Linked DNA regions of Homo sapiens. The protein of the gene in region 2 purifies or fractionates together with the protein of the main gene of each other region. This does not show direct contact. Each region holds a gene or a part of one and is shown on either strand. Other genes may lie near its edges. The genes, in order: NNT and SLC25A12.

Region 1 (3,581 bases), on a different chromosome or scaffold from region 2:
AGAAAAATACACTGTTTGAAAATAGGAAAAGGTGTAACTCCAGATAAAGTAATTTAATTTTTCTATGAAAAGATTTCAAAAAGTCAGCATGCTGTAAATGGGAGAGGAAAAAGGAATAATTACTTTGACCACCAAATCAGAAGCCAGCACTTCCTTTGCCCCTTGGATTTGGGCACCTGCCACTCTATAGTGATCATCTGAGAACTTGGAAGCTTCGCCCGCACCCGATTCCACGACAACATTAAAACCCTGCTTGACCAAGTTCTGAACACCAGCAGGAGACAATGCCACTCGCTTCTCATTTTGGAATATCTCTTTGGGGACTCCAACAGTCAGTTGCTTATATGGAATTCCTAGAAACAAGCAAAGGCAAAAAAAATATATATTTGGTAAAAAAACAAACAAAAAATGTTTAAAAACAGATTTCAGAAAATTGAAAGGAGCAATCTTTTCTTCAAAATATACCACACATGCAAGCTGCTGTTCAGAATGATGTTCCTGATTCATACTTATAATTCTTTGACTTTTGTGGTAGATTATAAGAAACTTTTATGCCTACTCTTCTGAAACTTCTAAATATTTTATTTAATCAATTGGCTTTCTTCAAGGAATATAACAAGCTTAGTTGATTTGTAGGAGAAAAAAAAATGGGTTTAGAGATCCCTCCACATGCTGACTCCATTCTTCAAACTAAGGGCAAGGTTATGGTCTCCTTGCCCTTACTTTTAACAAAATTGGAAGTAATTAGCTATTTTGAAGAACAACTGTATCCTAGACACTTTGATGGCCTGCCACACTCAAAGTTCCCTTCCAGGCAATTTGGCCACACACAATGCCTCATAAATTTCTAAGTGTTGTATCTTAAGACTCTACACACTCAGCCACTTAGACAAGGGATCAGCAACTGTGTCAAGGACAATCATCTACAGGGCAGACAAGGAAAACTAGCAGCTGCACCTTATAAGATGACTTAGACAGGAACTCTGTCCAAGGACGCTCTATGTTGGCCAGTGACTACTCAACCCACTGGGTTCTCTCTCAAGGAGTTTAAATGGGAGACCCACAGAGAGGGACAAGGAGAGTAGATCAGTGCAAATATTATTTGTAAGCACAGCTATGAGGTAATCAAAGGGAGGTCAGCAGTAACAGTGATAGAAACATCAGTAGTAGATATTTAAAGAGAGAAGATGGGTCACAGCCATGAATTCTACAAATAACATTCCACTTATCCAAGGAGTAGATGGGGGGTTTCTGGGCTCTCACACTTGCCAAGAATCCACATAGCAAACCCTCATCACAAAATATAATCTGATGTGATTCTGTTCCTTGCAACCCAAAAAAGCCTATATAGTACAATCTTATATTTAGATATGGTTCAGACCATCTTTAGCTACAGGACATCAGTTTCTCCTGATGTTTTACTTAATATGCAGCATAAACATTTTTTAATGAAGAGTATCTGTTTCTATATAAGGTTTATTAAAGCTTAGGAAACCCATTCTTGCAACCTAAGATCTGAATATGTATAATTTCAAAATGAATGAAATTATCCCTACAAAGTAACTTATTAAGTAAGACCTTAGAGAAATTAAGTCAACCTAGACCTGAATTTGAACACTGTCTTAGATTCCACACTACCTATATAGTAATAATTTACAGTACACGAAAGGCAAATAATGCTGAATCTTACTCCTTACTGGAAGGAGAAGGAGGAAAATAATAGAAAGCTGGCAAATATTTGGATTGACATACAAAGCTCAATCACATACACTCATCTCAAGTTCACTTAGCTGACAACCTCAAATTGTCAGGCTCTACATGGCAAAAGCAAGGAAGCTACCAAAGATGACTGAAGCCATGTCAAAAGGATTTAGAAGCCAATTTGAAAGGGCTTCCACTGACCAAATAAGAGATAATTTAAGCACATACAAGGGACAGAGAAACTGGCTAAACAATACCAAGAGGATTCAATCAGCCAAACCTAGAATGTTGTTAATTCTACAGAGCAACAATGAAATTCTTCAGTATATTAAAAGGAATAAAGAGAGGGGAACTTATAGATAAAAAGAGACAAAAGAGACATAGCAAATACAATGTGTGGACCCTGTTTGGATCACTCTTTGAACAAGCCAACTGTAAAGAAAAAGAGGGAGGGAGGGAGGGAGGCAGGGAGGGAGGGAGGGAGGAAGGAAAGAAGGAAGGAAAGAAGCAAGAAAGCAATTGAAAAAATATGAATACTGACTGTAGCTGGAATTACTTACTACACTTTTCAATATGGTAATGAACTTATGGTTATATTAAGGAAAAAATAGACTTCTTATCTTTCAGAGATAAAAATAATTAGGAAATAGTGAAGAACCAGAAATTAAACAAAAATGTCTTATACATAATCAATATAGAGATCTTGATGTCCATGGATTTACTCACAAGGACAGTTTTCATGTCTTCAACAGTTATTTACCTTTATTTTATACACAATTTTATCACCAGGATAATCTGGCTTTCCAGAGCAATTTAAAAGAAAGCATCTGAAGATAAAGTTGGAGGCTTGTAGGGACAGATACCCTGCCAATTGTGACTTGTCATCTGAGAACAAGAAAAGAGGCTATAAAATCTATTCAAGGCAGACATAAGATCTCAAAACACCTAGCAGTTTAGAGGTCCTTAATGAATCCACAAACAGTCCTACAAACTTAAAAAACAAAAGAGGGCATTATTCTAGGTGACAAAGGTTGCCCCCCAAAATATCCATCCTGTTCCTTCACCTTAATAAGAAAATGCCATTTTTAGCTGGGTACATTGCCATCTAGAATAAAAGACAAAATGTCCAAGTCTCCCTTACAGCAAAATGTCCAAGTCTCCCTTACAGCTACATGTCTGAGTTCTGGACAGTGAGGTGAAGTGACAGAAGTACTGGGATGATCTTTGGGCAAGACTGATGAAAGAGAGTTGACTTGGGGGACAACCTGCTCGGGTCCCCTTCCATTCTGTGGAAGCTTTGTTCTTTCGCTCTTTGCAATAAATCTTGCTGCTGCTTAAAAAAAAAAAAAAAAAAAAAAGACAGACAGTTGACTTGGTTTAGAAGGGCCCCTTTTTAGCCTCTCCTCCTTCTGGCCTGTACCCCAGAACAGAAGCAAGGAGACATTCTATCAGGGAAGGCCTTGTAGGCCACTGGAAGACTTCAGATCTTCCTCTGTAAGAGCTAGGAAGCAAGTGGCAAATTTTGAATTGAGGAGTGACATGACTGTACATTTTAAAAAGATTATTCTCACTGTCCTGTGCAGAACAGACTGTAGGGGGCAGAGGTAAAAAGCACAGAGACATTTAGAAGACTGGTGCATCAGTACAGGTGACAGATGACGATGGCTTGGACCAAGATGATAAAAGTAGCAATGGCAAGAAGAGGACAGTTTGTAGATATGAGATGGAGCTGACCTATACCTACTAGGAGGATGTAGAATGACTCCAGGGTTTCTGACCTGAGCAACTGCAATCAAATTGCTACTAACTAAATTGGAAAGCATTAATGTAGACCAATTAATATACTTAATTCCTAATTCCTGAGCATAGATGAGCTGTAT
Region 2 (4,024 bases):
TTTCACCGTGTTAGCCAGGATGGTCTCGATCTCCTGACCTCGTGATCTGCCCGCCTTGGCCTCCCAAAGTGCTGGGATTACAGGAATGAGCCACCAAGCTCGGCCTCAGCCTGACTCTTGAGTTAGGAAGGAGCTGATTTGGAAAAGGAGGAGAGAACCAGGTGTCCTTGGCTGCACCAACACTCCGAAAAGACAAAGGAAGGAAGGGGTGCATGTTTGCTCTCTATACAACCAGTAATGAACCATTACAGAGCTCAGTGTGGCTCTGACCAGCTGTGCTGGCCAACATGGTGAAACCCTGTCTTTACTAAAAATACAAAAATTGGCCAGGCATGGTGGTACACGCCTGTAGTCCCAACTACTTGGGAGGCTGACACAGGAGAATCGCTTGAACCCGGGAGGCAGAGGTTGCAGTGAGCAGAGATTGTACCACTGCACTCCAGCCTGGGTGACAGAGCAAGATTCTGTCTCACCAAAAAAAAAAAAGTGGGAGACTGGTAAGTACCAGAAAGGGGCTGCTACAAACAGCTCACTGCCAAGACTGAGCAGGTAACTTTACTGGCTTTTAAACACAAAACTGACTAAAATTACCATTGCTAGAGGAGAAAGGACTTGCTGGGCCCCAAATAAGGGCGGTAAGTTCCCTGGGGCCGTTTCTTAATGATCAAAGTCATCCCTGTCTTCACGAGCAAGAACAACGTGGTCCATCGCAACACTCTCAGGCCCAAGGGCTCCTACCACACAACAAGCACAGCACACTCCGGGAGCTGCTCAGGTTGCCCTGATGTTTAGCCAGAGCCTCCAGAGGAGAATGAGCCCAGCAAGGAAGAGCAACACAGTGAACATAAGCCTGGCTGGTCAGAGCCACACTGAGCTCTGTAATGGTTCATTACTGGTTGTATAGAGAGCAAACATGCACCCCTTCCTTCCTTTGTCTTTTCAGAGTGTTGGTGCAGCCAAGGACACCTGGTTCTCTCCTTCTATTCCAAGTCAGCTCCTTCCTAACTCAAGAGTCAGGCTGTACCTATGAGGTCAGAAGGAAGCATCTTAGTACCTCCCTGCTCTTACAAGGCTCCTCTTTCAAATGAAATCTCTTCTGTGCCTAATTTGGTATCTTAGACGACATGAAGGTTTTCATTCATGTTATTGACATTTATTGAGCACCTATTACTATTACACTGGCCACGTAGGAAAGGCAAGGATGAAGAGAATGAAACTCTTGCCCTCAAGAAGCTATTAGCCTAGTACAGAGGATAACAATTATGCAAATAACTATTAATAAAAGACAAATTTTTTTTTTTTTGAGACAAGCTCTCACTCTGTCACCCAGGCTGGAGTACAGTGGTGTCATCTCGGCTCACCGCAGCCTTGACCTCCCAGGCTCAGGTGATCCTCCCACCTCAGCCTCCCGGGTAGCTGGCTGGGACTACAGGCACGCACCACTACACCTGGCTAATGACAAAGTGTTAACGATTAGAAAAAATACAAAAATTGAGTTCAAGGTGGTTTGCTGAGGGGTACTGCTTACTTTGGTCTAATGAGGGCAATGGTAGGAAGAAGAGGGACAGCTTCACGACAAAAGCTCAATTTTCGGCCAAATCATGTAGATTCCAATATACAGAAGAGAGAAAGTAAGAGCATGCTAGATCTGTGCATGAGCATGAGATACAGCTAAGCAACTGATTTGAGGAAAAACTTTCCCACCTTAATGCTTAGCTTGGCTGTACTCAAGGTTTCAGGGGCACAGGAAACTAAGAAACATGTTAATGATGAAAGCCCAATTTAGATGGGCAGATCTAATTTGGCTCTGAGTTGCTAAGCTGCATTAAGCTGTTTATCCACATTATGCAAATGTAATTAACTCTCATCAGAATTACAGCACATCCCACAAAGGAGAAAAAGTGATATTTAAACTAAGTCAGGTACAAACAATAATACTTCCAGAAATAAAGGGGGAAAGTACATAGAGATTCTGTACTTTTTAAATAATGGGAGAATTCTTTCAGTTAAAAAAAAATTTGTAGTTACCTGCCATGGCTCCAGCTGCAAGAAGATTTAAACCTCCCACGTGTCCATTTTCATCAGCCAGAAGTAGTTTGCAATGAGCATAAACAGGAAAATAGATTGCAGAGAAGGGAATGTCTCGGAGGAAACACGCTTTGGCACCCTGTCACACAGTGAGGAAATAGTGCAAAACAGTGTGAAACTGAGTGTGAATGCCCAAATGGGATCCATGTGACATTTGTCAGTGACAAGCTTGAGGTGTCCCTCAGTGACAAGCCTGAGGTGTCCCTTAAACAGCATTAGAACTGATGTGCAAGGGAAATGGGGGAGGCGGGAGATAAGTGGGGAATAGGGAAATCTGCATATCTCAAAGCTTGTGAAAGCATGGTGAATCCTGCAGTCCTAGAGTTAATAACTGGGTAATGATAGTATTCTGAAAACTAAGAACTTTCTGGCATTTCTTATATAGATTCAGAGTTTTTAAAATTAATTAATCTCTTACTATGGTAAAAACACACAAGATCTACCCTCTTAAGTTTTTACATCAGCTGAGAGTCCCCGCAGTGCCAGGTAAAAAGCTATAGGCAGTGGTGAAGGAAAAGTAACTACTCTAGAGCAGGGGGAAAAGAAACCCAAATCTTCTCTCCTCATTCCCCATGTCCTAAATAGCAGACAAAATATTTTAGCGGCAGGTTTCCACAGGAGTAGAAAATCATTACCCAGGGGCAGCTTGTCCCAATGACTGAGGTCTCAAAGAACACCTCCCTCAGCTTTGTCAGAAGCCCACACCATTCCACTACCTAGCTAGGCAAACACTCCACCTTGGCGCTTGTTTTTTTAATGACTCTGTTTTATTCTTTTTAATTTTTTTTTTTTTCTGAGACAGGGTCTCACTATGTTGCCCAGGCTGGAGCATAGTGGCAGGATCACAGCTTGCTGTAGCCTTGACCGTCTGAGCTCAAGTGATCCTCCCACCTCAGCCTCCTGAGTAGCTGGGATGATAGGTGTGCACCACTGTGCCGGCTAATTTTTTCTTTCTTTTTTTTTTTTAAGGTAGACACAAGGTCTTGCTATTTTGCCCTGGCTGGTCTTGAACTCCTGGGCTCAAGCAATCCCCCTGCCTTGGCCTCCCAAAGTGCTGAGAGTACAAGTGTGAGCCAGTGCTCCCAGCCCTGGCTTTTTTAAAAAAAGACAAACTCAAACATTGAAAAAAAAAAAATCCAAGGACTCGCTAAAGGATAATACAGAGAGAAGCAATATTAATAAATTCATCTCTCAAAGGGAATTCAAAAAGGATGGAAATTGGGAGTGGGGAGGAGGAAGCAAAAATGTGTACGAAACTCTCTTGAGACAGGCATCATTGTTTGCTGGTCTCCAGAGAACCCTGTAGCTGTGTGATTCCAATCTAGAGAATTTCTAATTTCTAATTTGCAGTTACCGAAACAAATTTACACATTTCTGCAGTGATGGATCTATATCAGATGCTGTGGAAACACACTTGGCTATGGTGGCTAAATTTACGTATTCCCCTTATACCAGGCAAAGGAATGGAAAGAAATATTCTTCCTTGTTTAAGAAAAATAATAGCTTCTGCTCCATTACATCTGATCTGTAATGATGGGAGTAAGTATACCCGCAGGGAAGGAATCTTTTGACTGGCATTTTGTTAAAGTACAGTACACTCTGTTGTTGGTTTGTTTTTTTTTTTTTTAATGGAATTCATTATTGACAAATCCTACCACTTAACTTCTTAAAGACCTGAATCCTACCAAACTCTACTACTGTTTTACTGTGGTCAAATTATTAAGACAAAAGCTCCCACTGGGAAGATAACAATAGAGATAATCAGACCGAAAATAAACATAAGACTATTTTGAAGCCCTAAACCAACCCAAAGAGAGCACCAGGGAAAGTTTTCCCAAGCCCCCCAGCAAATGAAAGGCTGTGAGCCTGAGGCCAGCAGGTCTGCGGTGCTGGCCTCCTTGCTGGCAGTTTCATAAAAGCCTGATGACAACAGGAG

The links.
Region 1: the proteins of SLC25A12 (region 2) and NNT fractionate together in Homo sapiens (co-fractionation; one large-scale study listed by BioGRID). This does not show direct contact.

Annotation. Positions count from the first base shown.
Region 1 is NC_000005.10:43,609,680-43,613,260, reverse strand, and holds part of NNT (NAD(P) transhydrogenase, mitochondrial), read right to left. Parts: intron 354-3,581; coding exon 124-353; intron 1-123. UniProt on the Homo sapiens protein: The transhydrogenation between NADH and NADP is coupled to respiration and ATP hydrolysis and functions as a proton pump across the membrane. May play a role in reactive oxygen species (ROS) detoxification in the adrenal gland.
Region 2 is NC_000002.12:171,789,423-171,793,446, forward strand, and holds part of SLC25A12 (electrogenic aspartate/glutamate antiporter SLC25A12, mitochondrial), read right to left. Parts: intron 2,168-4,024; coding exon 2,029-2,167; intron 1-2,028. UniProt on the Homo sapiens protein: Mitochondrial electrogenic aspartate/glutamate antiporter that favors efflux of aspartate and entry of glutamate and proton within the mitochondria as part of the malate-aspartate shuttle.